Homo sapiens: one gene and its partners. The protein of the gene in region 1 purifies or fractionates together with the protein of each later gene. This does not show direct contact. Each region holds a gene or a part of one and is shown in the gene's direction. Other genes may lie near its edges. The genes, in order: MS4A4A, MON2, NUP210, HIGD1A, CSE1L, AGPAT2 and DNAAF5.

Region 1 (3,970 bases):
TAGATCTTGTTTTTTAAAAATTTTCCAGCCGCTCTTTGACTTTTGTTCAAAGATTTAATTCATTTATATTTAAGGTTAGCATTAATGGATAAGGATTTACTAGTGACATTTTATTATTTTGGGGGGGTTTGTTTTTGTAGATATTTGTTTCTTTCTTGTGCTCTGGTCTACCTTTGTGATTTAGTAATTTTATGAATTGCTAAGCTTTGAATTCTTTAACGTTTGTGTATCTGCTGTAGTTCTTTGCCTTGTACTCATCATTAGGCTTACATAAAACCACGTAGTTTTATAAATTGACTATTTTAAGGTGACAATAACAATGTTTGTTGAAACAAGAACTCTAGACTTGTACTGTCCTCCCACAAAACTAAATTTTTGATATCTTTGTTTTCTGCTGCTGTAAAAAACCATTGAAGACTGGGTAATTTATTATAAAATTGTATTTTGCTTATAGCTCTAGAGGCTGGGAAGTCTAAAGGCATGCATGGTGTAAACCTCTAGTGAGGATAATCCCATGAAGGAAAGTGGAAGTGAGCGTACAAAGCAGAGAGAGAGATGGGGCCAAATTTATTCTTTTTTCAGGAGTCCACTCCTGTGATAACTAACCTTCTCCAAGGATAATGACATTCATCCATTCATGCAGGTAGAGGTCTCCTGATGTAATTACCTCTTGAAGGTCCCACCTCTTAATACTGTTAAAATGGCAATTAAGTTTTCAAATGAGTTTTAGAGGGGACATTGAAACCATAGCATCTCATCTACAACCCTCCAAAACTCATGTTCTTCTCACATACAAAATACAATACTTCTGTCTCAATAGCCTCAAAATTTTTACCCATTCCAGCATTGACTCTAAAGTTCTAAGTCCAGAGTCACATCAGAAGCAGATATGGATGAGACTCAAGGTATGATTTATCTGGAGGCAAATGTTTCCAGCTGTGAGCCTGTGAAATCAAAACAAGTGATTTGTCTTCAAAATATAATGGTGAAACAGGTGCAGAATAGACTTTCTCAGTTCAAAAGAAATAACTAGGCAAGAAAAAGGTGTAAGTGGTTTCAAGTGAGTCCAAAACCCAACCAAGAAAACAGCATTAAGCTTTAAATCTGGAGAATAATTTCCTTTGATTCTATGTCCTAAATCCTGGGGACACTGATTGGGGCCCTCAGACAGTCCTGCTCCCATATCTTTGCTGGGCTCAGTCCATGCTTCAGCTCTGTTAGGTTGGCGTTGCATGCTAGTGGCCCTATAGTTCCGAGATCTCAAAGGTAGCCTCACTACCATGGCTACACTAGGCATATCCCTAACTGGGACTCTGTGTTGGCTCTGACCCCATATTTCCACTCAGCATTGCCCTGATGGAGGCTCTTTGAAGTGGCTCCACTCCCATAGCTATTTGTGACATCCTTTGAAACTAGGTGGCGAAAGCCATGCCCCTACAACTCTTGCAGTCTGTGAGCCTATAGAGTTAACACCACATGGTTGCCATCGAGATTGACAGCTTGTACTTTTTAGGCACAAGTATTATAGTGGCTGTGGAGCTGGGGTCTTAGGCTCAGAGTCTTGCAAAACTACTGTGGCACAGGTTCACTCACCAAGGCATGGATGGATGCAGATTACCCACAAAGCTGAGGCTGTAACTTTGAAGCAAACCTCAGTAACTCAAGCCCATGGGGCAGGGATGGAAGAGTTACTGATTCTGGGGTCAGTGCACAACACCAGCATGGCTCCAGGGAAAGAGGGGTGCTCTGGAGGCTTGAGCTCTGGGGAGCAGGTTACAGTTGAAATTTTGGTTCCAGAGCCACTAGGACACTGCAGCAACTCCATCCCTGGGTGATGGAGTGCCACATAGTGGTAACTCTAGACACTGGGATGGTAGGGCATGGCAATATCCCAGGCTGTGTAAGGCTGGATGTAGCAGCAGCAAGGCCTCAGGAATGACTAAGCGTGTCTGTGGCTTGGTCCTTGGGTTTCTTGAAGCAGTATAGAAATGACCCCCTGGGGAGCCAGGGTTTCTCAGAAGCTTGGACTCCAGGGAACTAGTCAGTTCTAGGGAGGTGGGGCACTGCAGTTATTTTGCCTGGATTGTTGGGTGACACAGCTCAATCAAAGCTATATGTCCTCAGAGAGTGGGCCACAGTTTCAGCTTGAATTTGGAGGGGCAGTGTGCACCAGCAACTAAGATGGGGGCATGGAGCAGTTCCATGGCAGCCTGGCCTCAGCAGGTAGAGAGTAGACAGCAGCAGTTTGGCTCAGGTATGGCTACCAGGTGTGTGTGGTGTAGTGGTGGTTAAGCCTCAGAGATAGAGGTGTGCAATAGCTACTCACTTCTGAAGCAGAATGCACTGTAGCAGTGATTCGTTTCCAAGAAGGGGCAACACAGTAGCAGCTCAGGCCATGGAGGCCAGGGCATAGTGTCAGCACCACCTCTGGGATAGGACAGACATGTGGACTTCAGGTAGCTCCATCAGCTGAGCTCAGAGCCTGTGAAGACTCTAAGTGTCTCCAGTAGTAAGATTACAGGTATCCATGGTGGTGATGGGAGCTGCTGGGGTCCTCTCGCTTACCTTCTCCCTGCAGGAAGAAGGCTCTGCTGACTCAGAGATTGTCCTAACTGGGGGAAGGGGTGGTGGAAGAAAGGTGTTTTATCTCCTTCTTCATGTAGCCATCCTGGGTTTCTATGATCTACAAGATTTCTGCTACTCCTTTGCTGTTTTCAGGTGCTCTTCTTTAGTTACTTTAGTTGGAATGCATTTGTTTATTCATTGTTTTGGGGAGTGTGTGTGTGTGTGTGTGTATGTGTGTGTGTGTGTGTGTGTGTGTGTGTTGATGATGATGAGGGTTAGGAACTTCTCGTTGGCCTTCTTGGTGACATTCTTTAGAATTCTAATCAGACATATTGTAGACCTTTTAATTCTACACTTCTAATCTTTTAACCTCCCTTCTATTATGACCATTTTCTTGTTTCTCTACAGAATTCTTGGTGATTTCTTCAAATTTTTCTTCCAGTTGACTAATTCTATTTTCAGCTATTCCTTGTTATTTAACACATTGGCCAATTGTTTTCTGTCAACACTATTTTGTATTTGAAATTTGAGATTATGTTCCAAATATGTCCTGTCACTCTATGTGCTTTATCTTTGACTTCATGTTTGTGATTTAATTTTCATTTAAATAAGTTATCTATACTCTTTACATATTCTATATGTGATATATATCCAGATGCTCCTAATCTGTGGGACTTCTTGCAGGCTTGTATCAAGGATATCTACTTCCTTCTTTATGGACTCCAATGGAGGACTTATTCAGAGACTGATTGCCTTCTAAATATGTGTCTTTTTGGTGATTTCTCCTTTACTACTGACTTCGATGATTCTCAGAACTATACTTTTCCAGGGAAGTGACAGTTATCAACTGATGTATTTAATTCCCAGGATTATAAACAGTAATTTATGTTGTACACCTCAGGGGGGGCCTCTCATCCTTGATAAGTATACTCTGAAATCTGTGGCCATGGTGTCCTGTTTCTTTCATACTCTCACTACACTTCTCCCCAAATTTATCATCATGTAATCTTTGTTTCTAACACTCATTTCACCTGATTTATAGAAATGTTAGTTGTTTCCCACTTTCATAAAAAAAATGGAGTTCTAATTCTGTTTGTCCAAATTGTTTTCGGAACTTTTCTAAAAGTGAAAAGAATAAGAACATTGATTTTTTGGTTACATTCTTATATATAATTCCTTATCTTAACTACTTCATTCACATTTACATTATATATTTCTTATTTATTATATTTGTCTTTCTTTTTTAAAAGAAATACTTATTTTATAATTTGTAATTTTGTACTTTTTATTTTACTATTTTTCATAATTTTAAGTATATACATTACTAAAGTTAAATTAATGTTCTAAATAATTAATCTTTTCATTTTAACGTTTCTCCTCTATCTTTCTCTGAAATTCACCCCCC
Region 2 (3,970 bases), on another chromosome or scaffold:
TTTATTTCAAATTTTTAGTCATTTCTGTCTTTTATGGCCATAGTGCTTGACTATTATTTTATTTATTTATTTATTTATTTATTTATTTATTTATTTATTTGAGACAGGATCTCTTTCACCTAGGCTGGAAGTGCAGTGGCAGGATCTTGGCTCACTGCAGCGTTGACATCCTGGGTTCAAGTGATTCTCCCACCTCAACCCCCTGAGTAGCTGGGACTACAGGTGCATGCCACCACACGCAGCTGATTTTTGTATTTTTTTTGTAGAGACAGGGTCTCACCATGTTGCCGAGGCTTGTCTCCAACTCCTGCGATTAGGCAATCTGTCCACCTCCTACTCCCAAAGTGCTAGGATTATAGGCGTATCCCAGGCTGCCCATGTAATTCTTTTTTAAAATTAATAATAAGCTGGATTTAAAGATTTCAAATCTGTTAGAAAAACCAATAAAAGAGTATTGATAAAGAATAGTGCTTTATTTACTGATATTTACTTACTGTCTTTGGACTTCTACATGGTTTTTCCTACCTTACTGTTTTCATTTATAACTCTATCCTTTGTATATTAAATTGTTGTTGTAGTGGCTATGGCTTTATTCTGTCATTTTATAATAACCTCTTTCTCTTTTTTTCTATTTTTCTTAGTTGTTATACATAAATCTTCATGTTTTAGCAGTATAACTTTTTTTAGTACAACTGTACTAGCTAATTTGGGAATATTGTATGAAATTTTTTCCTTTGTTTTAAAAATTACTTTGAAGCCTTCCATGATCACTTCTATGTGATTAATATTCAGTGGCCTTTAGAGGAAGACAACTCTGAAGCTTTATGTTTATGTATTTCATGAATAAAAACTTTCTTATTATTTCCTATTTGCAGGTACAGATGAGGGGTATCTAACTGAGCCTGGAAGTTGGAGGAGGGGAGTCATTCCTAGCAGAGGAAATAGCACACGTTGTTAGTATTCCATGTAAAATAAATTTTATACTGAAGATGATTGGAGCCATTAGAGCTTTTTGAAAGAGAGTAATATGATCAAATTGATATTTAGTAACATTGCCTTGACAGTTGGTAGGAAGAATTAGAGGGTATTGAGACTGAAGCAAAGAGAGCAAAGTTTAAAAAATGATGATTCTCTGTTTTGAAGCAGTAGTGGACATAGACAGAAGGTTGCTTGCATTGAGTTAGACAGTAGTGAAAGAGCGTATAGATTGAAAAGGTAAAAATTACCAAGGCATGGTAATCTTTTATATAATGGAGAGAGAGAAATGTGTGATGCCTCCCAGGTTTCTGGCTTGGGAAACTAGGTGGATCACTAAGAGAAGAAATAAAAGAGGAGGAAATGTTTTGGGGGAAAATGAGTAGTCATGTGTGTATATTGTTTGAGACGGAGTCTCTGTTGCCAGGCTGGAGTACAGTGGCACAATCTCGGCTCACTGCAACCTCCGCCTCCCAGGTTCAAGTGATTTTCCCGCCTCAGCCTCCTGAGTACCTGGGATCACAGGCGCGTGCCACCACACCTGGCTAATTTTTTGTATTTTTAATAGAGACGGGGTTTCACCATGTTGGCCAGCCTAGTCTCGAACTCCTGACCTAAGGTGATCTGCCCGCCTCGGCCTCCCAAAGTACTGAGATAGCAGGCGTGAGCCACCACACCCAGCAGAGTAGTCATTATATTAAGATTTATGTGTGACATCCAAGTGGAACTGACCAGTAGGTGTTTGAAAATGATGGTTTGGCACTTAAGAGGGAAGTCTGGAATTTCAAATTTAGGAGTATCAGTTTATAAATAATATTTGAAACCATAGAATTGGATGAAATGGGCCAGGAAGAGTGTGTGTATAGAGTGAGAATATCAGGACTGGAAAAGGAACTGTGGGAAACAACATTAAAGAAAAAGGCTGCTGGGCAGACTGAGGTTAAAGATACAGGAGAGAAAGGTAAAACTCGTTAGAGGAAGGTCCTTGAGAAAACTGAAGTTTCAGTGGCATAAGTATATGAACAGGATTTCAATCTGAGAAAGGACACATTACCTTCTGACAGAGGAAGGACAAAGGAAAAACCGGGTTTGAATGTGACAAATTTGACAGAAGGGAGCGACAAGTTGTGGGCAGTTTGGTCTGTGGCCTCTGCTTTCTTGCGAAGATAAGAAACAAGCTTGTTAGTAGGAATAATTAAGTGATAAAAGAAGTAGGGGGTGGCAAGTTTGAGGAGAGCAGTGGATCACTTTGGAGAAGTGGAGGAGAAATTGTCTTGGAACACTTAAGAGTCTTAGCAGGAAGAGTGGTTGAAATAATGGTGGATTGTGAGAGCTAGGTTGGATTCCCAAAGAAGGAAAGCCAATAGTTTGGATTGACTGGATGATGATGGGAAGGTTAAAGGCTAGCAGCACCTATTTCATCAAAGAGCAGTGGGGTTGGGGAGTGAGAGAGCTAGAAGGATAGGAGTTGGGACAATGGTGGGAATATTGCATTTCAGATTGCCCAGCACTAGAGGATGATGAAGTCCAGGGAATGGGTGGTAGAAGAGTAAAGGGAAAGAAGTTCATTTGAGTTTAGGTGGTCAGAATTAGGGAATTGGATAGATTCCTTTTCTCTCTTTTTAAATGATGCAGAATCAGTAAGGGTATAAATAATTTAAAAGTGCAAGTAGTCTTCCTAGGCTATGTAGTTTAAGTTTCCTGTTACCCATTCAGGCCTAATAGAAATTGGCTGGCAGAGAAAAGCAAAGGTTTCTTGTGATAGAGTTCCTCAGTATCCAGGTGTTTTGCTTTGTTAACTGGCTTAGGGAGACCCCTAGTGAAAGAGATGCCTTCTACTTACTGTGACAGGATTTGCCATTTAATCAGATATTTAGGGACTGTGACTAATGTCATTGGCTCTCCTGGTTGGGTTAACACCTCATTTGCACGACCTTATGACATTGAAGATGAGGGCTGGATAATCTTTACGAGCTTACTTGGGATCTGTTTTGGTTTAGTATTTTATAATGTGGTTTCTTCCTCTTGACATTGTGTTCTTTCTCCCATAAGCGTAATATAATATATTCATGCTTTATATATTGAAAGCTATAAACTGAAATAAATGATTACCTGTGCTTTGGTGACAGAAAAAATAAAAGACATATTCTCTAACTTATAAGCCAAAAAGGAAGACATATTTCAAAATTTGATTTATTTTTCTTTTTTCCTTTATGTAAGCATAGCTGAACATTTTCAACCATGTATGAAGTAGAAGGTTTTGCTGTTACTGTTATAATTTAACAGAAATTTATGAGTCTCCTAAAAAAGCACAGCAGGAACACAGAAATAATTGAGAAATTGCCTTTAGTCTCATGAAGTTAACTCAAGGTTGAATAAAATGTTGCCTTCCCACTAGGCTTGGAACTTTGCATCCTTAGACTCTAATGCAACATGCCATATTAAATATTTCATTTTACAGATGAGGAAACTGGTATAGACAGGTTTAGTAATTTGCATAAGGTAGTAAAGCTGGAAAATGGTGGAAATGGTGGAAATGGTATGTGAGTCCATGTGAGTCCATCTCTAACTCCTCTCCCATTTTCCATTATATCATGCTGCACATGCCTTTACAACTTTCTTGTTTTTGTTATTGTTCCCATTTGTTTACCTTGCTTCATTATTTGTTACTATTGGTTATTCTTTCCATCTTGGAACCCTCTAGTTTTGAGTTTTGTAAGACTGTACTTCCCTGTTTCCCCTCTCAGTATTCCACATCCTTTTCTTTTTCTTTTTGTTTCTATTTTTTGAGACAGGGTCTTACTCTGTCACCCTGGTTGGAGTGCAGTGGGCTATCTTGGCTCACTGCAGCCTCTGTCTCCCAGGCTCAAATGATCCTCCCACCTCAGCCTCCTGAGTAGCTGGGACTGTAGGCAGATGCCACCACGGCTGGCAAATTTTTGTATTTTTTCATAGTGACAGGGTTTTGCCATGTTGCCTGGGCTGGTCGCAAACC
Region 3 (3,970 bases), on another chromosome or scaffold:
GGAGATGAAATACTACCTTTAAGGAAAAACAAATATAATTTGCCATAAATAGATTATGGTTGAGTCCTTTAATTGTACTTATTATATAATGTGATTGGCTTTTAACTCAGATGTGTATGTGGTGAAAGCTCTGAGCCTCACACCTGCTGTCTGTTGCTAAAAAGGAATTGATAAGGCAACGAAGGGATGGGGAGGGGCTGTGCTTTGGGGAAGGAGCTACAGAGGGCAGGGCCTGGCAGCAGCACCAGACCATTCCTGGGCAGGAGTCAGCTAAAGCTTCATGCCAGGATGGTCAGGAGATTCCAGGCAGGGAGTTGTGGGTCAGGGAGAGCAGGTGCTAGGGGCCACAGCCCTGTAGAGGGCGGGTGCAGCAGGGTAGGAGAGCTGATGGCTCCAGGTGGCTGGAGTCAGGAGCATGACCGGCACTGGGGCAGGCAGCGTGGCTGTCTCCTGAGGCTGCTGAGTGAGCCCCCATGGGGGTAGCGGCAGCCAGCGAGGAAGCTGGCCTGTCATCCAGGTGAGCTGGGCTTTGACTGGAGTGTCCAGCTATGGAAAGGGGGCTGACACCTGTGCTTCCTCTCCAGGCCTCTCAGGAACCTGGAGCTCCTCGGCCAACAGCATCCTCCACATCGACCCCAAGACGGGTGTGGCTGTGGCCCGGGCCGTGGGATCCGTGACGGTTTACTATGAGGTCGCTGGGCACCTGAGGACCTACAAGGAGGTGGGCTCTAAGCAGCCGGAGGCACATGTGGCTCAGTGGCCTGTGAGGCGGGCCTGACCTTCTGGGAGGATTATGAAGACTTTTCCTTTTAGGGAAAAGCCGTCTGAGGGGTTGGGTCTGGGAGTCATGAGTCTGGGACTGGCCACTTGCTGACTCTGACATGGGGACAAGCTCCCTTTTTTTTCCAGGCTTCAGTCTCCCCATGTTCAAGAGGGTGTGATGAGGACAGGCAGCCTTGTAGGGTGGATTCCAGCTCCCATGGGCTTGGGTCTGGCAACCCCGGAGTGGGCACTTCCTGGGAGCCGGTGCTTCCCTGTCACCTGCAAGGCTAAGACTCCCTGTGCAAGTCACCCTTTGAGTCTGGAGGCGACAAAACCTGCTGTCTCTTCCATTCATCTCCAGTTGAGAATGAATCAGTGGGGCAAGTCTGGCTGAGATCCAAATGCATCTCATTTTTAGAGGCAGCATGTGCTTTATGGAACCTAGCAGTTTAACCTAATTGTTTGCATATTTAGTGCTGCGGCTCTGCAGTTTGGGCGAGCCAGTTGCAGACAGAGGCATCCTGTGACAATACAGCTGTGCTCTCCTGGAAAGAGCCTCTGGTCAGGGGATGGGGTGGCATGGACAAAGGTGTGTAGGGTTCAAGGGCAGAGCCTCGGGGGCTGGAACAGAGGGTGTGGGAGAAGCATGGTCTGGCTTTGTGATCAGATCAGAAAATGCACCAGATTCCAGGCAGTTTGGTGCAGGTTGAGGGTGGGGCATCTACAGCTAGACGGTCTAGGTCAAATCCCAGCTTGGCCACTGCGAGGCTATGACTGAGCAATCATTGAGTCTCGCTATGTCCCGATTTTCTTGCCTGTATAATGGGGATGATAGCGTTGTGAGGATTTAGTGAGTTAGCACGTCAGAAGCCCCTAGGGTGGTGCTCAGCTCATAGCCAGTGCTCAGCAGAAATTAGCTGCTGCTGCTGCTGCTGTTCCAGGGTGAAGGGGTAGAAGCTTATGCCACACTCAGTGGAGTTTTTTAAACAGTGCTATAGACCAAGGCTGTGTTTGCAGAGGTTACCTGGCACCTGGAGGAGCTCGAGAGAGCAGTCGCTACAGGGTAACTGGCCAGAGACTGAGGCCAGGCCCTCAGCTGGGATCACTGGGTGTGGCAGAATCTAAAGGCAGGTTTGGGAGAGACGGGAGGGAGGGAGGCACATCAGAGCTCCATGAGCATCCAGAAGTGAGGCTGGAGGGGAGGAAGGGCTTGGGATGACCAGGCTGCTACTGGTCCTTTGCTGAGAGGGGCACACAGAGGTAGGTAGGCCTGCAGGGAGGTGAGGAGCCTGGGCCGGGGAGCTAGAGATGTCACAGCTCTCCCAGGTGAGGCAGGAGGCACACCTGGGTGGGTGCGGCAGGAGCACTGTGAGGAAGGCTGGACAGGGTGGGGGCCTCAGCCCAGAAGTGGCCTCTGAAGCCCTGGGAGTGGGTGGGAGTGCACGGGCACTCCAGGAGTGCAGGCAGGAGAGGGGCCAGGAAGCCTTGGGCACTCTCTGAGGGTGGACAGGGAGGAAGGGGAGAGGAGGGCCAGCGTTGGGGGGTCCCAGGCTAGAGAGTGGGACACAGCCTCTGTCAGTCCCTGGAGGTGGATGGTGGTAAGCCCTGAGCGGAGGCACCGTGAGTTTGACAGTGATGCCTGGTCACCTACAGCTCTGCATGGGCCACATCCCTGGGAGCTGCAGGGGCTTCAATCGCATCCCTGCTCTGAAGTTCACCTACTGGTAGAAATCAGATCTCCTGGAGGCAGGGAGCGCTGGTGCCTGCTGAGAGAGGGAGGGGGGCCTTCAGCTGCAGGAAGTGGCCTTGGGCCTGAAGGGTGGATGAGGCTGGGCTCTGCAGAGAAGATGGGAGGGTGTCCTAGCCAAGGGAGTGCAGGGAGGTCTCCAGCCTGGGGCTGTTTGGGTGTGGCCAGGTACAGGATGGGCACAGGGGGAACAGCTGGGAAAATCTGGGCAGACTGGATTCTGGGTGGGGTGTGGTGCTGTACTACAGAGAAGTGATCATGGCTGTCCGAACAGCCAAAATCCTCAGCCCACCCAGATCGATTAATGAATTCAGGCCCGCTGCTCAGCGTCCAGTCAGCTGCTGGGGGAAGCAGCTTGTTCAATGGGAGAACTGGGCTGTGAAGTCTGACCAGACTGGGCTCAAACCCCCTCTCTGCCACATTCTAGCAAGGCGTTTAGGCTTTGAGCCTCAGTGTTGCCACCTGTGAAACGGGTGACACTATGTCACAGACTGCAGGGTGAGGTTGTGGAAACGCCCAGCATGGACCGGGACACAGGCGGCGCTCCATGAAGCTTCCTTGGCTCCCTCTCTAGGTGGTGGTCAGCGTCCCTCAGAGGATCATGGCCCGTCACCTCCACCCCATCCAGACCAGCTTCCAGGAGGCTACAGCCTCCAAAGTGATTGTTGCCGTGGGAGACAGAAGCTCTAACCTGAGAGGTACTTAATGAGGGGCTTGGGCTGTCTTCAGAGTACCTGGGAGCGGGGAGGTGGCTTCCTGTGTCCTCTGGATGGAGTTTATCTGCTTCTCCTATTCACACTCACACCAACTCCAGAGAGGGCATTTAGCCCCCACTCATCCACTCCTTCCAGCGTTTCTGAAATTGGAGTCCTCCAAAAGCTGAGCCAGTGAAAGGAATCTTCATAATGGAGCCCAGCTCCCAGAAGGTGCCTGTTCTGCACTGGAAATGTGACTTCAGCCCGAGGGCACCCTAGCAAAGAAAGCCACAATTTCCCACCGTGAATCCCAGAAACTAATGAATTAGCAGGACTCGTCACTGGTTTTAATTTTTGTAATGACCTCTCCCAGGTCATGCATAGAATGTTGAACCCCATCCCCTGCCCATGACAGCCCTGAACAGCAGCTGCCAGAAATAAGTAAGTCAACAGGGCTGTTTTCTTAAACCACCTCACTGGCAGAGTGAAGCACCGCCCTTCTCGTCCTGATTAACGAGGCAGCTCTGTTCCATCATGGCAGCCTCTGCTCCTTCCTCAGCGCAAGTGGACAGCACTGTGCCGTTGCCTAAATGCTGCTCAGATGTTAGTGGAGAACTAGTGCCCTCTGAATGTGCAGAAGTAAATTGCCGTTTCCCCTGCTGACAGGGACAGAAGACAGGCATTAGTGGGCCTAGCCCGTCTGCCGTGCCCCTGGATGCAAGGTCTGGAACAAATGCTGAAATTCTGACTTGAAGCTCCCTGTGAT
Region 4 (3,970 bases), on another chromosome or scaffold:
TCTTTTCATAGGTACAATATAAGAAACATAAAAGAAATAAGCACTTAGGTACATACAGTTAGGCATTTTTCTTACTGATTAAACTCTACAAATCTGTATGATTGTTATTTTTTTGTACTCAATATTACTGAATAACCTAAGAATGCTTTCAGTTGTTGAGAAATGTAACTTTTAAATGTATTCAAGAAACATTTGTAGTGTACATATTATATATAGGGTATTGCACCAGGCAGTGGAGTTGGATACAAGCAGAGCAGGTATTGGTCCCTGACTTGAAGGATTCTAGCAAAAGAAACAGACAAACTGGTGCTTATAAGGGTTATAAGGAAAGTACAAGGTCCTATGGGACTGCATAACCAAAGCACTTACGAACTTAAAGAGACAAAAATTTCTGAGAGGAGGTCAATTAAGATGTGAACCTGAGTCCAGTATGGTGGCACCCAGTGGCAGTGTGAACTGTGAGGAGTTCGCCGAGTTCCAGGAATTACTCAAGGTGATGTGGACAGTTGATACAGACTAGTACATTAATTAAACACTACAGTTCCAACAGCTTCCTTTGCAGGGAAGATTGATGCCAGCCAAACCTGTAAACAACTTTGAGTCTTTGATGGCAGCTCATGCCAGTAGGGACAGAGTCATAAAAAACTATATAGCCCAGACCTCAGCAGTAGTAAAAAACCTCTGAGAAGAGAGAGAAAAGAATTTGGACGATTTAATATTGTTAAAGCAACTCAGAACAGAGCAGGCAAAGTTGAAATGGATGTAGTCAGAATGATAAATGACAGGAGCTGGAAGGAGTTTAATGAATGCTGCCGAATTCACTTCAAACCTCCAAATAAACAGAATAAACGGAGATACTTTTTTTTTTTTTAAAGGACCGGGTCATCTCATAAGAGCTAAGCATGACAAATGTCAACAGGGCGGGCTTCCTAGGATGATTTCTGAGCCAGTAGTCCAAGACCTTTTGTTGATTTCAGCCCCACTTAGGCAAGACCTCAAATATAAATAATTCTGATAATTATGGAGAAATCAACTGCTATTTTATACTGATTCTGTTAAAAAAAAAGTTTTGTAACTATTAAAATAATGTTCTGACTCAGTGTAAAAAAAGAAAAACCAAACCTGAAAAAAAAAATGGGAGGAGTTAGCTAGGAAAGAGTATCTGAAGGGGATGGAAAGGGAGGGAAACTCTCACAAGTAGAGGAATCAGCTTGTGCAAAGGCTTAGAGGTATAGAGAGCATCTTAAAAATATTTAATGTGGTCAGAATGTGGGGTTGGGAAGGGAAATGAAAGGATTTGTGATAAACTTCCCCTTTGAGAAGGTCATGTTTTTTTTTTCTTTTTCTTTTTCTTTTTCTTTTATTTTTTAAAATTTGAGACAGAGTCTCTCTGTGGCCCAGGCTGGAGTGCAGTTGCACAATTTCAGCGCACTGCAACCTCTGCCTCCCGGGTTCAAGCGATCCTCCTGCCTCAGCTTCCCAAGTAGCTGGGATTTCAGGCATGCACACCACTATGCCCAGCTAATTTTTGTATTTTTAGTAGAGATGGGGGTTTCACCATGTTGACCAGGCTGGTTTCGAACTCCTGACCTCAAGTGATTGCCCACCTTGGTGCCCCAAAGTGCTGGGATTACAGGCATGAGCCACCGCACCTGCCCGAGAAGTTCATGATTAGATATGAAGGCAACTAGTAAACATACTGGCCTAAAATAAATACAGTGTTTAATCTCTCTATCCAGTCCATTTATGCAGTTTCTTCAAAGCCAGTCTCAAGTGTTTCTCTGTGAAACGTGCCAAACCTCCTTTAGCTAAAATACATCACTCTCTCTAAATTCAGACCTTGTCTGTGTTAGGCTTTTGACAACTAATTACACTGTGATTGAAACCACCATTGCAAAATTATAACTGAGACAGTGAAAGAGATCTGACCTAGCCAAAAAAAGATGGAGCCAGGCATGATGGTTCACGTCTATAATCCTAGCACTTTGGGAGGCTGAGGCGGGCAAATCACTTGGGGCCAGGAGTTTGAGACCAGGCTGGCCAACATGGCAAAACCCCATCTATACTAAAAATACAAAAAAAAAAAACCAGGCATGGTGGTGCACACCTGTTATCCCAGCTGTTAGGCTAAGGCACAAATCACTCAAACCTCGGAGGCAGAGGTTGCGGTGAGCAAAGATCGAGATCGTGCTCCAGCCTGCGTGGCAACTAGACCCTGTCTCATAAAACAAAAATAGAAAAATAAAGCAAAGATGGTAACAGCCCTTTCCTAAAACAAACCCCCTTCTTGCCTGGGGACTAGACTGCCTTTGTAGGTTTAATGAATTAGCCACAGATTAGAAATTATGGTTTAGGAGTCGTGCAGCTGGAAGTTATAAGATTCTTTTTTTTTTTTTTTTTTTTTTAATTTATTTTTTTATTGATAATTCTTGGGTGTTTCTCACAGAGGGGGATTTGGCAGGGTCATGGGACAATAGTGGAGGGAAGGTCAGCAGATAAACAAGTGAACAAAGGTCTCTGGTTTTCCTAGGCAGAGGACCCTGCGGCCTTCCGCAGTGTTTGTGTCCCTGATTACTTGAGATTAGGGATTGGTGATGACTCTTAACGAGCATGCTGCCTTCAAGCATCTGTTTAACAAAGCACATCTTGCACCGCCCTTAATCCATTTAACCCTGAGTGGACACAGCACATGTTTCAGAGAGCACAGGGTTGGGGGTAAGGTCACAGATCAACAGGATCCCAAGGCAGAGGAATTTTTCTTAGTGCAGAACAAAATGAAAAGTCTCCCATGTCTACTTCTTTCTACACAGACACGGCAACCATCCGATTTCTCAATCTTTTCCCCACCTTTCCCGCCTTTCTATTCCACAAAGCCGCCATTGTCATCCTGGCCCGTTCTCAATGAGCTGTTGGGCACACCTCCCAGACGGGGTGGTGGCCGGGCAGAGGGGCTCCTCACTTCCCAGTAGGGGCGGCCGGGCAGAGGCGCCCCTCACCTCCCGGGCGGGGCGGCTGGCCGGGCGGGGGGCTGACCCCCCCCACCTCCCTCCCGGACGGGGCGGCTGGCCGGTCGGGGGGCTGACCCCCCACCTCCCTCCCGGACGGGGCGGCTGGCCAGCCAGAGGGGCTCCTCACTTCCCAGTAGGGGCGGCCGGGCAGAGGCGCCCCTCACCTCCCAGACGGGGCGGCTGGCCGGGCAGGGGGGCTGACCCCCCCCACCTCCCTCCCGGACGGGGCGGCTGGCCGGGCGGGGGGCTGACCCCCCCACCTCCCTCGCGGACGGGGCGGCTGGCCGGGCAGAGGGGCTCCTCACTTCCCAGTAGGGGTGGCCGGGCAGAGGCGCCCCTCACCTCCCGGACGGGGCGGCTGGCCGGGCAGGGGAGCTGACCCCCCCCACCTCCCTCCCGGACGGGGCGGCTGGCCGGGCGGGGGGCCGACACCCCCACCTCCCTCCCGGACGGGGCGGCTGGCCGGGCGGGGGGCCGACCCCCCCACCTCCCTCCCGGACGGGGCGGCTGGCCGGGCAGAGGGGCTCCTCACTTCCCAGTAGGGGCGGCCGGGCAGAGGCGCCCCTCACCTCCCAGACGGGGCGGCTGGCCGGGCGGAGGGCTGACCCCCCCACCTCCCTCCCGGACGGGGCGGCTGGCCGGGCAGAGGGGCTCCTCACTTCCCAGTAGGGGCGGCCGGGCAGAGGCGCCCCTCACCTCCCGGACCGGGCGGCTGGCCGGGCGGGGGGCTGACCCCCCCACCTCCCTCCCGGATGGCACGGCTGGCCGGGCGGGGGGCTGACCCCCCACCTCCCTCCCGGATGGGGCGGCTGGCCGGGCGGGGGGCTGACCCCCCCTCACCTCCCTCCCGGACGGGGTGGCTGCCGGGCGGAGATGCTCCTCACTTCCCAGATGGGGTGGCTGCTGGGCGGAGAGGCTCCTCACTTCTCAGACGGGGCAGCTGCCGGGCGGAGGGGCTCCTC
Region 5 (3,970 bases), on another chromosome or scaffold:
ATGCTCAGGCTGTGAAGCCTGTGTATAAAATGTTTTGTCCACGTGGTAAGGGAACTTATAAAAGTGGTGTTCTTAATATTTTAATCAAAAGTTTCAAGTCAGTGTTTATTCTGTAGGATCTCCCTGAATTTTTTGAAGATAATATGGAAACTTGGATGAATAATTTTCATACTCTCTTAACATTGGATAATAAGCTTTTACAAACTGATGTAAGTATTTAAAATGTTGCCTGAGTGGTCTTTTTCTTTCATTAAGAGTTATTTGGCTACAGTCTGGAAACCTATTTACTCTTGCATTGTTAAAAGATAAAATTTCAATACTGTAATAATATTTGATTCTATTTGATGTTACATGTTTGGTGTGTGTAGTATACAGAATTACTCTTATCATGGGCTTGGCTTAAGCCATAGTGTACATATAAGGCTGTTTCATTACATTATTGAAAGTAGGTCTTTAAAGTAGTGACATTATGGATATTTCATGAAATAAAATTATTTTTCATTGAAGATACTAAGAAAACTTAAAACTCTATAATGGTAGCCCCTTTTTAAAAATCATCTGGCTAGGCATGGTGGTTCACACCTGTAATCCCAGCACTTTGGGCGGCCAAGGTGGGGAGGATCCCTTGAGCCCAGGAGTTCAAGACCAGCCTTGGCAATGTAAGGAGACCCCCATCACTACAAAAAATAAAAATAAAATTAGCCAGATGTGTTGGCTCATGCTAATGGTCACAGCTACTCAGAAGGCTTAGTTGTGAGGATCCCTTGACCTTGAGCCCAGGAGGGCAAGGCTGCAATGAGCTGTGACCATGCCACTGCACTCCAGCCTGGGAGACAGAGGGAGACCTCGTCTCAGAAAAAGAAAAAATTATCCACAGCTCGAGAAAGAGAGAAAATGGTAAAAGATTGTAATTTGTAAATATTTCTGATATGGGTTTTATATTGTGTACTTTTAAACATATAACACTTATTCTGTGCTACTCATTTGTTAATATATTTATGACCTTCTTTCCGAAGAGACAAAAGACAAAATATTAAAAATATTTCAATACCAAATAAACTAAAAATTAGAATTGGTGATTCAAATCAGGTTTTAAGAGTGGGGTACAGAAAGAAATTGTTACTATCGTTGTACAACAGATTTTGTCTCAGAGTTTGACTATATTAATAGGAACTTTAAAAGATGTAGCTCTCATAAAATAATTATTTCAGTCCAATGGGAGGGAAAAACACTCCTTCAGAAAACAAAACTTTTCTTCACACAAAAGTCACAAGGAAATTTTTTGGATAGAATTCTTACAAGGACCTTTTTGCCCAGTTAACCATGTGCTACCTTGTGCTACTATTTATGCCTTAAGTAATCAGTGTGAGGGAGTTTTGGTTTTGGCTTTGGTTTTTGTTCTTACTCTGATGTCTTCCCTTGTCTCACTCTGTCACCAAGGCTGGAGTGCAGTGGCATGATCATGACTTACTGCAGCTTCGACCTCCCTGGGCTCAAGTGATCCTCCCACCTCAGCCTCCCAAGTAGCAGGGACTATGGGTATGCACCACCATGCCCAGCTGATTTTTTTTATTTTGGGGGCTTGCTGTGTTGCCCAGGCTAGACTCAAAACTCCTGGGCTTGGCCCGTCGCAGTGGCCCACGCCTATAATCCCAGCACTTTGGGAGGCCGAGGCCATCCTGGCTAACACGGTGAAACCCCGTCTCTACTAAAAAAAAAAAATACAAAAATTAGCCGGGCGTGATGGCGGGTGCCTGTAGTCCCAGCTACTTGGGAGGCTGAGGCAGGAGAATGACGTGAACCCAGGAGGCGGAGCTTGCAGTGAGCTGAGATCGCGCCACTGCACTCCAGCCTGGGCAACAGAGGGAGACTGCGTCTCAAAAAAAAAAAAAAAAAACCACTCCTGGCCTCAGGCCATCCTCCAGCCTCAGCCTCCCAGAGGGTTGGGATTACCGGCGTGAGCCACTACACTCAGCCAGAATATACTGTTTGAATCTAATACGGAAATATTTTGTAATTCAGCAACTTATTTGAAAGACTTGGTGAAAAGATTGGTGGTGGCATAGCTGTAGTTTACAATAACTGATTTGATTTGGATTTAATTGATAAAGAGTCTAGTTCAGGAATTTCAGTTACTCCTCTTACTTATGTTAGCATTAGAGTTGTATGTTGGAGTTTTTGTTTTCTTTTATGTGAGGATGAAGAGGAAGCCGGCTTATTGGAGCTCTTAAAATCCCAGATTTGTGATAATGCCGCACTCTATGCACAAAAGTACGATGAAGAATTCCAGCGATACCTGCCTCGTTTTGTTACAGCCATCTGGAATTTACTAGTTACAACGGGTCAAGAGGTTAAATATGATTTGGTAAGATGATGGTGGAGACAAATAATTAAAAGACATTCTCTCCCTATCTCCTCCAAGAAATAAGCTGTTGAGTTTTGCTTTTAAAAATATTCTTGTTTTTGTGTTTTGTTCCAGTTGGTAAGTAATGCAATTCAATTTCTGGCTTCAGTTTGTGAGAGACCTCATTATAAGAATCTATTTGAGGACCAGAACACGCTGACAAGTATCTGTGAAAAGGTTATTGTGCCTAACATGGAATTTAGAGGTAATTATGGCAAAAGTATATTAGTATAAATCTACTAAGTCTGTGTTTGTTTTTTGTAACATATTCAGTCTAATTCATTTATTACTGGATAAAACTTGTATGTCATTTATTTCTTATTTTCTAAACCAAGACAGAAAATGTAGTATCTGTAATGAGTTTTGTTGTGCCCTGTGAGGGTTTTCTCATGGAAATATTAAATAAGACTTCAAAAATTCCTTTACACTAAGAAGATAAACTATCTGGAATTTCTATTTAGAGAAAGAATTTGATTTTGTTTCATTTATTATTTCAATGAATTTTTAGCTGGCTTTATTTATTTATATATTTATTTGAGACAGGGGTCTCGCTCTGTCACCCAGGCTGGAGTGCAGTGATGCAATCTTGGCTCACTGCAACCTTAGCCTCCCAGGCTCAAGTGATCCTCCTACCTCAGTCTTCTGAGTAGCTGGGACCACAGGCACACATCACCATGCCTGGCTAATTTCTTGTATTTTTGGTAGAGACAGGGTTTCACCATGTTGTTCAGGGTAGTCTCAAACTCTTGAGCTCAAGCAGTCCACCCGCTTTAGCCTCCCAAAGTGCTGGGATTGCATTTCTGAGCCACCTCGCCCAGAAATAGCTGTTTTTAAACAATCGACTTGAGAATAGAAATGATAACTTTATAAATACAAGGTTGAAGCCCACTTAGTTTGTGCTTAAGGTTAAACTATAGTGCTAAGAGCCTATATTTATAAAATGTATGTCCTTGTTCTAACAGTTGTGAAGAACAAGTAATGAAGGTGGGAGGGATTGTGTTTTTTGTTTTGGGGACAGGGTCTCACTGTGTCACCCAGGCTGGAGTGCAGTAGCACAGTTATGGCTTACTGCAACCTCAACTTCCCAGGCTCAAGTCATTGTCCCACCCTGGCCTCCTGAGTAGCTGGGACTACAGACGTGCACCACCATGCTCAGCTAGTTTTTTATTTTTTATAAAGATGGGGGTCTTCCTATGTTGCACAGGCTGGTCTCAAACTCCTAGCTTCAAACAATCCTTCTGCCTCAGCCTCTCAAAGTGCTGGGATTACAGGCATGAGCCACCATGCCAGGCCAAGATTTTGTTTTATATCAAAATAGTTATTAGATCAGTGGTTTTCAAATTACATCTGGAACAAAATAAGGAAATTAAGGACAATATAGCGTGAGATTTTATTTCCTGTTGTGTTTTCATAAAAATATGTTTAAAGGATAAATCTTCTGGCTGGGTGTGGTGGCCCATACCTTTAATCCCAACACTTTGGGAGGCTGAGGTGGGAGGAACACTTGAGCCCAGGAGTTAAAGACCAGCCTGGCCAAAATGGCAAAACCTTATCTCTACAATAAAT
Region 6 (3,970 bases), on another chromosome or scaffold:
TCACGTGGCTGGTGCAGATGGCCCTTTGTCCCCTTGAGGACATCAACTTCAACTTTCTTCCACCCCCAGGGTATACCTTTCTCCCCCAGCCACACTGTGGGCTGCAGAGTTCTAGAGAGCCACAGCCTCCCGCTGGCCTGGGGCAGCCTCCGTCCGTCCATCTGTCTGGCCTGAGGACCAGGGGCCGGTGGTGGGCGGCGGGACACAGCGCCTGCTCAGCACCGCCTGCTGGGCGGGGGTTTGTACCCCGTGTCTTTCACAGCTGAGAGAAGTATCAGTGCACGATCCAACCCCTAAGCAGCTTAGATTAAAAAAAAAAAAAAAAGGAAAAGTTTTGGAGCTAGAGGGTGGTGCTGGCCACACGGCAGTGAATGCGCCGAGTGCCACGGAACCGTGTGCTGAGAAATGGGTACAATTATATTGTTTAGGTGGTGCGTGTTATACCACAATCAAAACAGAGGAGGGCTCGGCGCGCTGGCTCCTTCCTGTCATCCCAGCACTTTGGGAGGCCGAGGCGGGCGGATCATGAGGTCAGGAGTTTGAGACCAGCCTGGCCGACATGGTGAAACCCCGTCTCTACTAAAAATACAAAAATTAGCCGGGTGTGGTGGCGCACACCAGTAGTCCCAACTACTTGCTAGGCTGAGGCAGGAGAATCGCTTGCCGGGAGGTGGAAATGGCAGTGAGCTGAGATCTCGCCACTGCACTCCAGCCTAGGTGACAGCAAGACTCCGTCTCAAAAAAAATAAAAAATAAATGAAGATCTTATTTTTTAATAATTTCAGATTTACAGAGAAGTTGCAAAGATATTACGGGGGACCCCATGTGGCCCTCACCAGTTTCCTCCCTTGTTAACATCTTACATCACCAAGATGCAGTTGTTAACACTAAGAAACTAGCTGGCCGGGCGCGGTGGCTCACACCTGTAATCCCAGCACTTTGGGAGGCCGAGGTGGGAGGATCACCTGAGGTCAGGAGTTCGAGACCAGCCTGGCCAACATGGTGAAACCCCGTCTCTACTAAAAATACAAAAACTAGCCAGGCCTGGTGGCAGGCACCTGTAATCCCAGCTACTCAGGAGGCTGAGGCAGGAGAATTGCTTGAACCCGGGAGGCAGAGGTTGCAGTGAGCTGAGATCACACCACTGCACTCCAGTCTGGGTGACAGAGTGAGACCCTGTCTCAAAAATAAAAAAGTAAATAAAAGATGGAACTGGCCAATGTCACTACCAGAGGGAACCAATGTCCCTTTCAGATGTGGCCCGAGCCTCCTGCAGGCAGCTAGCTTTGGAATTGCAGGTGTGTCTTGGCTGCTGCTAGAAATCATACACATGTCCTTCACAGGAGATGAGTGTGGACCTGTCCTGTTCTTTCCCCGCGCCCCAGCTGTCTGTGAAATGGACCCTAATTTACTTTCCCTCTTTCTACTGGTGGCTATTTAAGCATTTTCAGGTTTTCCTAATTCACTGCACACTTCAGCACCACAGGCTTCTCACTCCAGCCGTCGGGCGAATTCCTGGAAGATTCTGAGAGGGGAGGGGCCAGGTTTCCTCAGGGCTCTGGCCGGGCCTGCCAACCTGCCCTCCACAGAAGTATCTTGTCTGTGCGACTCCTCACTCCTGCCAGCCGCTGGGCCTGTTCCCAACACCCTGGCTGGCACCTCCTGTTATCAGGCGTTTTAATCTGTGCCAGGGGGAAGGATGAGGACAGTCTCTTGTTTCCATTTGCGCTTCTTTGATTGGCGACACGGCCGTCTTGCTAGCACCAGACAGTTCTGTGTTTCCTGTTGGTGAACTGCCGGCTTTTGCCTCCTCGTCTTCTTGGAGCGTCACAGGGGTCCGGGAAGCTGGATTGCGCAAATGAGTGTGGAGGCAAAACAGCCCTGCAGTTCCCCTGAGTGTGCGGGTGCTACCAGCCCGGGTGTGCCTTCTGGGTGGGAGGGGACGGTGGCCGGCGCGGCCTGGAGAGGAGATATCTAGAGTTGGCTGAGGAAGGCAGATCTGAGGAGGCCCCAGGCTTCCAAGTCCAGGGACGGACGGCTGGACTCATCACCAGAATTAACCATTAGGCCCCCCTTGACTCAGTTTCCCCATCTGCAACAGGGGGTCATGAGCATTGCCCCATCAGCCTGAGGTGGTGCTGCCGCAGGCCTGGGCTCACACATGGAAGGGCAGAGTGCCAGGGCTGGGGAGGGGACAGGGGTTTGTGTCGCATGGGAACAGACGTCAGCCAGAGAAGGTGGAGAGTTCTGGAGATAGAGGGAGGAGATGGCTGCTAGACACCGAATGTGCCCAGCGCCCATGAACTGTGCACCCGGAAAAGGCCAAGGAGATACATTTTATGTTACGTGTATTTTACCACAATTTTTTTTTAAAGGCCGGGCGAGTTGGCTCAGGCCTGTAAGCCCAGCACTTTGGGAGGCCGAGGTCGGCAGGTTGTTTGAGCCTAGGAGTTCGAGACCAGCCTGGCCAGAGATGGTGAAAGCCCATCTGTACCAAAAATACAAAAACTAGCGAGGTGTGGTGGCTCACGTCTGTGGTCCCAGCTAGTCAGGAGCCTGAGGTGGGAGGAGCCCAGGAGGTGGAGGCTGGAGTGAGCCCAGATTGTGACACTGCACAATGTGACACATTGTGTCACAGAGCAAGACAGAGCAAGGGGAGCCTGGGTGACAGAGCAAGACCCTGTTAAAACAACAAAAATCCCCACCAGTATGGCTTTGAGAGAAGGCCCCGGCTTTGAATCTCTGCTCTGTGGCCTGGGGCAGTTACTCAGACTCATCTGTAGAAAGTGTGGGGCCCTTAGGACTGCTGGGGGATCAAATGGTGGGGGGCACTAGTCTGCATGGAGAGGGGAGCAGCACTGGCAGCCCCCCAGTCAGCGCTGGCACAGCCTTGCCCCGGCCATCCACCCCTGCTGGAGCTTCGGAGTGGAGCTCCGTCCTCCTGGCTCCATCCCCGCCGGCTGCCCTGTGATGGGGTGCCCTATCTGGGGTGTGCCCAGAGCTTCCTGGCAGCACAGCAGGGCAGAGGTTGGGACGCTCGGAGCTGGTCAGAGTCTTCGGGTACCCCTTGGACATCCCTGGTCCCAACCATGACGGGCTGCTTGGACAAGGCCACCTCACATTTGCAGGTGCTCCAAGGGCAGCCCCCAGTGGGCTGGGCCCCTGCCAGAGTGGGGGCTGCTGTGGCCAGGGCTCAGGTGGCCCAGACCCTGGCTCTGCTGCTGCTCCTGGTGTGACCTCAGACAAGCCCCGAGCCCCTCGCCGCCTCTTCACGGGGAAAGGGAACCGGCCTGATTCTGTAGGGTAGGGGTGAGAGAGGGTCTCGGTCTCGGCTCTTTTCTGGAAGAACCTTTCGGAGGTCGTTTCAGAGGTCTCCACTGGCGCCGACACTTTCTTCCTGATGTGGCCCTGCCTTGAGGGGCCAGTGACCTTCCCCAGGGTGTGTGGGGCCCCATTTCCTCTGCTGGGGTGCAGAGGCTGCTCTCCCCGACGTGGGTCCTTCATAGCGGACGTGAGAGCCAGTGCCAGTTCCTTTCCGGCTGGGTCCCCTGTGGGGTGGATGAGGGCTGGGTGGGCCCTGGATGTGGATTTGGAAGTGGGCGCCTTCCCATGCTCCTAGCATCCGAGTTCCAGAGGCTCTGGGTTTTCCTCTGTTGCTGGGGAGACGGAGGCAGGGCAGCCGTCCAGGTGGGTGAGCCGGGCCCGGGACTCTGTCCGCTTCAGGGGCTCCCTCCCCTGTGTCTCCCGGTCTCCTGCCCCGTGCCAGGAGGGCCCCTCCCCAGCCTCCTCCACACCCCACCCCCAGGCCTTCGCGCCCCAGCCTCGGCTGCGGGATCTGTGGGACCCGTGTTCATGGTGGCCTCCCCTGCAGCATCATCGGCTGGTTCGTGCGAAGCTTCAAGTACTTTTACGGGCTCCGCTTCGAGGTGCGGGACCCGCGCAGGCTGCAGGAGGCCCGTCCCTGTGTCAT
Region 7 (3,970 bases), on another chromosome or scaffold:
ACGTCCACCATCCCATCCAGTCCCCAGGGTACCTGCACAGATCGCACGTCCTCAGGGGGCACTGACAGCCTGTTCCCCATCAGCCCTGCCTGGCGTTCCGATCTGTGCTTCTCACAGCCCAGCTGAGGATTTGCCAGAGACATTTGTTTAATTTTAAATTGAGCAGCAAATCCTTGAGCTCAGAAGCTGGAACAGCCTGGGTAGTTGGGCTCAATTGTTTGGAATAATCCATAGTTGTATTCCATGGAAGAAGAGGTGATGGCTTTGCTTTCATTTGAAGGTGAGTGGTCCCTGTCAGTGTGTGTGTTGGACTCAGCACCCCAGATATTTCTGGGACACAGGGCTGCCCCCACCAGGCGGCCGTGCCATGCAGGGCGGGCCTCAGCTCACCCCTGGAGGCACTTGCTCCGGCTCGATCGTTTCCGGCGGCTTCTATGGCCCCAAAGCTGGCCTGGGGCACGGGGACTTGCCACTGTGCTCTCAGCCCGGCCTGTCCTGTGTCAGGCTCCCTCTCCGTCCTCAGAACGAGAGGTGGGGCTGTTGACAGTCATTTTTGTAAACTGTTTTAAGAAACCTGTAAGCAGTTCCTGGAATACATAGAGGGAAGGAAACGGAGCTGGGGTAAGGAAGGGAGCGGGGGAGGGGCCCGGGCCGCGTGCTCATGGCATTTCAGCCATGCTTCAGCTTTTCCCAAAACCCGTTTTTAACACATCATCGAATGTGTGTCAGTTCTCCACTTTCCTTCACCCACGAGGGGTTATGAGGATGCCTTTGATTTCTGTATACAGATTTGCAAGCCAGAAGCATTTTTTCCTAGAAGGGCATAACTTGAAAATGTGCACAGGTGCCTAAATCCTTATCTCACAAACTTTATAGCAAAGAAAGTGTAGTTTTCACATCTCCATGTTGGTTACAGGAAAACGGAATTGTGTCATCCCACAGTTGTGCATTTGGCTCCCCATCTTCCAGTTTTATCGAGGAAAAATTTAATCACAATCTTTCAAACAGAGACGTCTTTCTGACAAAGTCCAGTCACACGGGACCCCTGGGAAGCCAGCCTCAACCTTCCAGGCTGCGAACGTGTGTCGGCCCTTTGGCCAAGGAGCCAGTCACAGTGAAAACCCAAGACGTACATTTCACTCCTTTCTTGTTTTTATTTTTTTGTTTTAGGTTGATCCTCCCACCTCAGCCTCCTGAGTCACTGGGACTACAGGTGTGCACCACCACACCTGGGTAATTTTTTTTTATTTATTTTTATTTATTTACTTTTTGGGACAGAGTCTTGCTCTGTCACCCAGGCTAGAATGCAGTGGCGCAATCTTGGCTCACTGCAGCCTCCGCCTCCCAGGTTCAAGCGATTCTCCTGCCTCAGCCTCCCAAGTAGCTGGGATTACAGGCATGCACCACCACACCCGGCTAATTTTTGTGTTTTTAGTAGAGACGGGGTTTCTCCATGTTGGCCAGGCTGGTCTTGAACTCCTGACTTCAAGTGATCAGCCCACCTCGGCCTCCCAAAGTGCTGGGATTACAGGTGTGAGCCACCGCACCTGGCCCCATTTTACTCCTTAACAGACTTAAATTTTTGGCAAGAAAGGGTGAAGGTACTCAGGTCTCAGTCAGAATCAGGCCCGTGGTTCTGTGCTCTTCCCACGCCCCTGTGCTCTTCCCGCGGCCGGCCGGGCTTTGTGTCATGTCATTTGGGAAGTCGATTATGTTTCCCACAGCTATTCTCCAGTAGCTATGAGAACAGGTTGAAAATGTCTTTCAAGAACAAACCGAAATTGTTTTAAAAGCTCGTGTTTAAACAGAGAAGTCCGTGTAAATGTATTCTAAACTGAGCCTGGCTTCACTCCCTGCCCTGGGGTTCACAGGAAATCTGGCTTTAGCAGTAGGTACTTCCAGGTGTCTCGGGCCCAGTAGGTCCCCTAGAGCTCGACAGACGGGAACTGGAGTCTCCTGGGAAGGAGTTTAGGACAGGTGTCTAGAGTGAGGAAATGGGTAACTCACCGATTTGCTTCTCACACAGGGAAGCCAGCAGTTGTGGGATGCCATTGCCATTGTTGAAATAGGAGTCTCTTGTGCTTTTCTGAATTAAAAACCTTTGCAGTCTTAGATAACATTGTTTCAGAAAACAATGTTTGAAATAGTATTTCAAAAAATACTGAGAATTATTTCCTGCTGTATCTTTTTTCTTTTTCGTTCTGTGTGTGTGCGTTGTATGTAGGCAGACACTGAAAATTGTCTGGTCAAATATAGAGAAATCTATAAATGTGAAGTCTTGTCACTTCCTCAGAGACGGTGCTGCGTTCGTGGCAGGAGGGTGGTGCTTGCTGCAAAGGATGCCTGATTCCCTGTTTGTTCCTGTGCTTGGAGGTGTGGTCAGCCAGGAGGGGCTGTGTCTTCTAAACGCACCTGCCTTTTGATTTTAACCGAAAAGATGATCGCTCCTGAAATGTACATGACAGGTCATTCTAGAAACTAGCCAGATATTGTCCTCAGAAGTCAGCCAGTTAGTACAGGCCTTAGAGAAATTGGGCTGTGGGAAAAATCAGGAATGGAATAAAAACAAATCTGTGGCTTCTGTGGGAGTTGGGGCCACGACAGGGCCACACGGCTCCTCCAGCTCCGAGGGAGACGGGGCCGCGCGGCTCCTCCAGCTCTGAGGGAGACGGGGCCGCGCGGCTCCTCCAGCTCCGAGGGAGATGGAGCCATGCAGCTCTGTGTCTTCTGTGGGTCAGGGCGGGGCCGGGGTGCAAGGACAGAACGCTGCTGTAGTACAGTGGGAGTGTTTTGTTTAGTCTTCCATGATTTACGTCAGTGGGGAATGAGGCTTAGAGTTTTAGAGCTGATTAGGAAATTTAGAACCAACCCATTGTCTAGCCAAATAATTACCAAACTTCTTTGAACTTGCACCCCCATTAGTAAAAACAGTTTTTAAGCATAGGCCTCCAATATATGTACACTGTTGATAAATCACGTGTTTAAATTACATGGCCACGGTCCTGACTCACTCTGTACTTTATGAAACATACATAAAATAGACATTAGAGGGACGTTATAAGAAGTAAATACAGGCCAGGCGTGGTGGTTCTTATCTATGATCCCAGCACTTTGAGAGGCCACGGCAGGAGGATCACTTAAGGCTAGGAGTTTGAGACTGCAGTTAGCCACGATTGCACCACTGCACTCCAGCCTGGGCGACAGAGCAAGACCCTGTCTCTAAAAAATAAGTTAAAATTTATTTAGAAAGAAGTAAGCACACGCAAAGCCTTAGGAATTCTTGGGTCCAGCACACGCCTGCTGTGTTGCGGGCTTCAGAGCCTGGCTGATTCACAGTGGATGAGGCTGGAGCCGGGAGGGGAAGCCATTCATCCAGCGCAGCCGTAGGTGCAGAGCTGAGACTCCACCTCCCCGTCAATCAGTAAACATGTTAAGCCATAGAATTTTATTTGTCTTAAAACTTGGTGTTATAGAAAAGCTCAAAAATGCACAGAAGAGGGGCAGGCAGCAGAGCGACTGCCAGCTTCAGCGCTGACCAGCCCTTGGCATGCGTGTTCTGCCTGCCTGGGGCCACTTTTCTTTTTAACTTTGGAGGGCGGGGAGAACTTGGGCATGTTGTAAAGCAGATAATGCAGTGCGCCGTCATTTCCCTCACAGGTGCCGTGTGCATCACTAACGCAGCTTCTCCACCACATAGCTCAAGTGCCTGTTCACATTTCACAAAATAAGCACAGATTCCTTAGCTCCCAGTCTGTGTTCAGTTTTCCCATCAACAAGCACGCCCTTTTATGGTTGACATGCCGGCACCCTACCTCCAGCGCCTGGGGGCTCTCCCTGCAAGGGCTCTCCCATGGCTGCTGCCCCTCGTGAGCCGTAGACTAGGAGCCCCGGGCGGGCTCTGTCGGCCCTGACACTGGGGCCGGAGCGGGAGCCCTGTATTAGTCCATTCTCATGTCGCTAATAAAGATCT

The links.
Region 2: the proteins of MS4A4A (region 1) and MON2 purify together in Homo sapiens (affinity purification with mass spectrometry, with the first as the bait; one large-scale study listed by BioGRID). This does not show direct contact.
Region 3: the proteins of MS4A4A (region 1) and NUP210 purify together in Homo sapiens (affinity purification with mass spectrometry; one large-scale study listed by BioGRID and IntAct). This does not show direct contact.
Region 4: the proteins of MS4A4A (region 1) and HIGD1A purify together in Homo sapiens (affinity purification with mass spectrometry; one large-scale study listed by BioGRID and IntAct). This does not show direct contact.
Region 5: the proteins of MS4A4A (region 1) and CSE1L purify together in Homo sapiens (affinity purification with western blotting; one study listed by BioGRID and IntAct). This does not show direct contact.
Region 6: the proteins of MS4A4A (region 1) and AGPAT2 purify together in Homo sapiens (affinity purification with mass spectrometry; one large-scale study listed by BioGRID and IntAct). This does not show direct contact.
Region 7: the proteins of MS4A4A (region 1) and DNAAF5 purify together in Homo sapiens (affinity purification with mass spectrometry; one large-scale study listed by BioGRID and IntAct). This does not show direct contact.

Annotation. Positions count from the first base shown.
Region 1 is NC_000011.10:60,286,800-60,290,769, forward strand, and holds part of MS4A4A (membrane-spanning 4-domains subfamily A member 4A), read left to right. Parts: intron 1-3,970.
Region 2 is NC_000012.12:62,469,826-62,473,795, forward strand, and holds part of MON2 (protein MON2 homolog), read left to right. Parts: intron 1-875; exon of another isoform or gene 876-953; intron 954-3,970. UniProt on the Homo sapiens protein: Plays a role in regulating membrane trafficking of cargo proteins. Together with ATP9A and DOP1B, regulates SNX3 retromer-mediated endosomal sorting of WLS away from lysosomal degradation.
Region 3 is NC_000003.12:13,322,546-13,326,515, reverse strand, and holds part of NUP210 (nuclear pore membrane glycoprotein 210 precursor), read left to right. Parts: intron 1-584; coding exon 585-721; intron 722-3,083; coding exon 3,084-3,207; intron 3,208-3,970. UniProt on the Homo sapiens protein: Nucleoporin essential for nuclear pore assembly and fusion, nuclear pore spacing, as well as structural integrity.
Region 4 is NC_000003.12:42,797,733-42,801,702, reverse strand, and holds part of HIGD1A (HIG1 domain family member 1A, mitochondrial), read left to right. Parts: intron 1-3,970. UniProt on the Homo sapiens protein: Proposed subunit of cytochrome c oxidase (COX, complex IV), which is the terminal component of the mitochondrial respiratory chain that catalyzes the reduction of oxygen to water. May play a role in the assembly of respiratory supercomplexes.
Region 5 is NC_000020.11:49,070,089-49,074,058, forward strand, and holds part of CSE1L (exportin-2), read left to right. Parts: intron 1-116; coding exon 117-209; intron 210-2,197; coding exon 2,198-2,365; intron 2,366-2,479; coding exon 2,480-2,609; intron 2,610-3,970. UniProt on the Homo sapiens protein: Export receptor for importin-alpha. Mediates importin-alpha re-export from the nucleus to the cytoplasm after import substrates (cargos) have been released into the nucleoplasm.
Region 6 is NC_000009.12:136,677,458-136,681,427, reverse strand, and holds part of AGPAT2 (1-acyl-sn-glycerol-3-phosphate acyltransferase beta), read left to right. Parts: intron 1-3,871; coding exon 3,872-3,970. UniProt on the Homo sapiens protein: Converts 1-acyl-sn-glycerol-3-phosphate (lysophosphatidic acid or LPA) into 1,2-diacyl-sn-glycerol-3-phosphate (phosphatidic acid or PA) by incorporating an acyl moiety at the sn-2 position of the glycerol backbone.
Region 7 is NC_000007.14:757,430-761,399, forward strand, and holds part of DNAAF5 (dynein axonemal assembly factor 5), read left to right. Parts: intron 1-3,970. UniProt on the Homo sapiens protein: Cytoplasmic protein involved in the delivery of the dynein machinery to the motile cilium.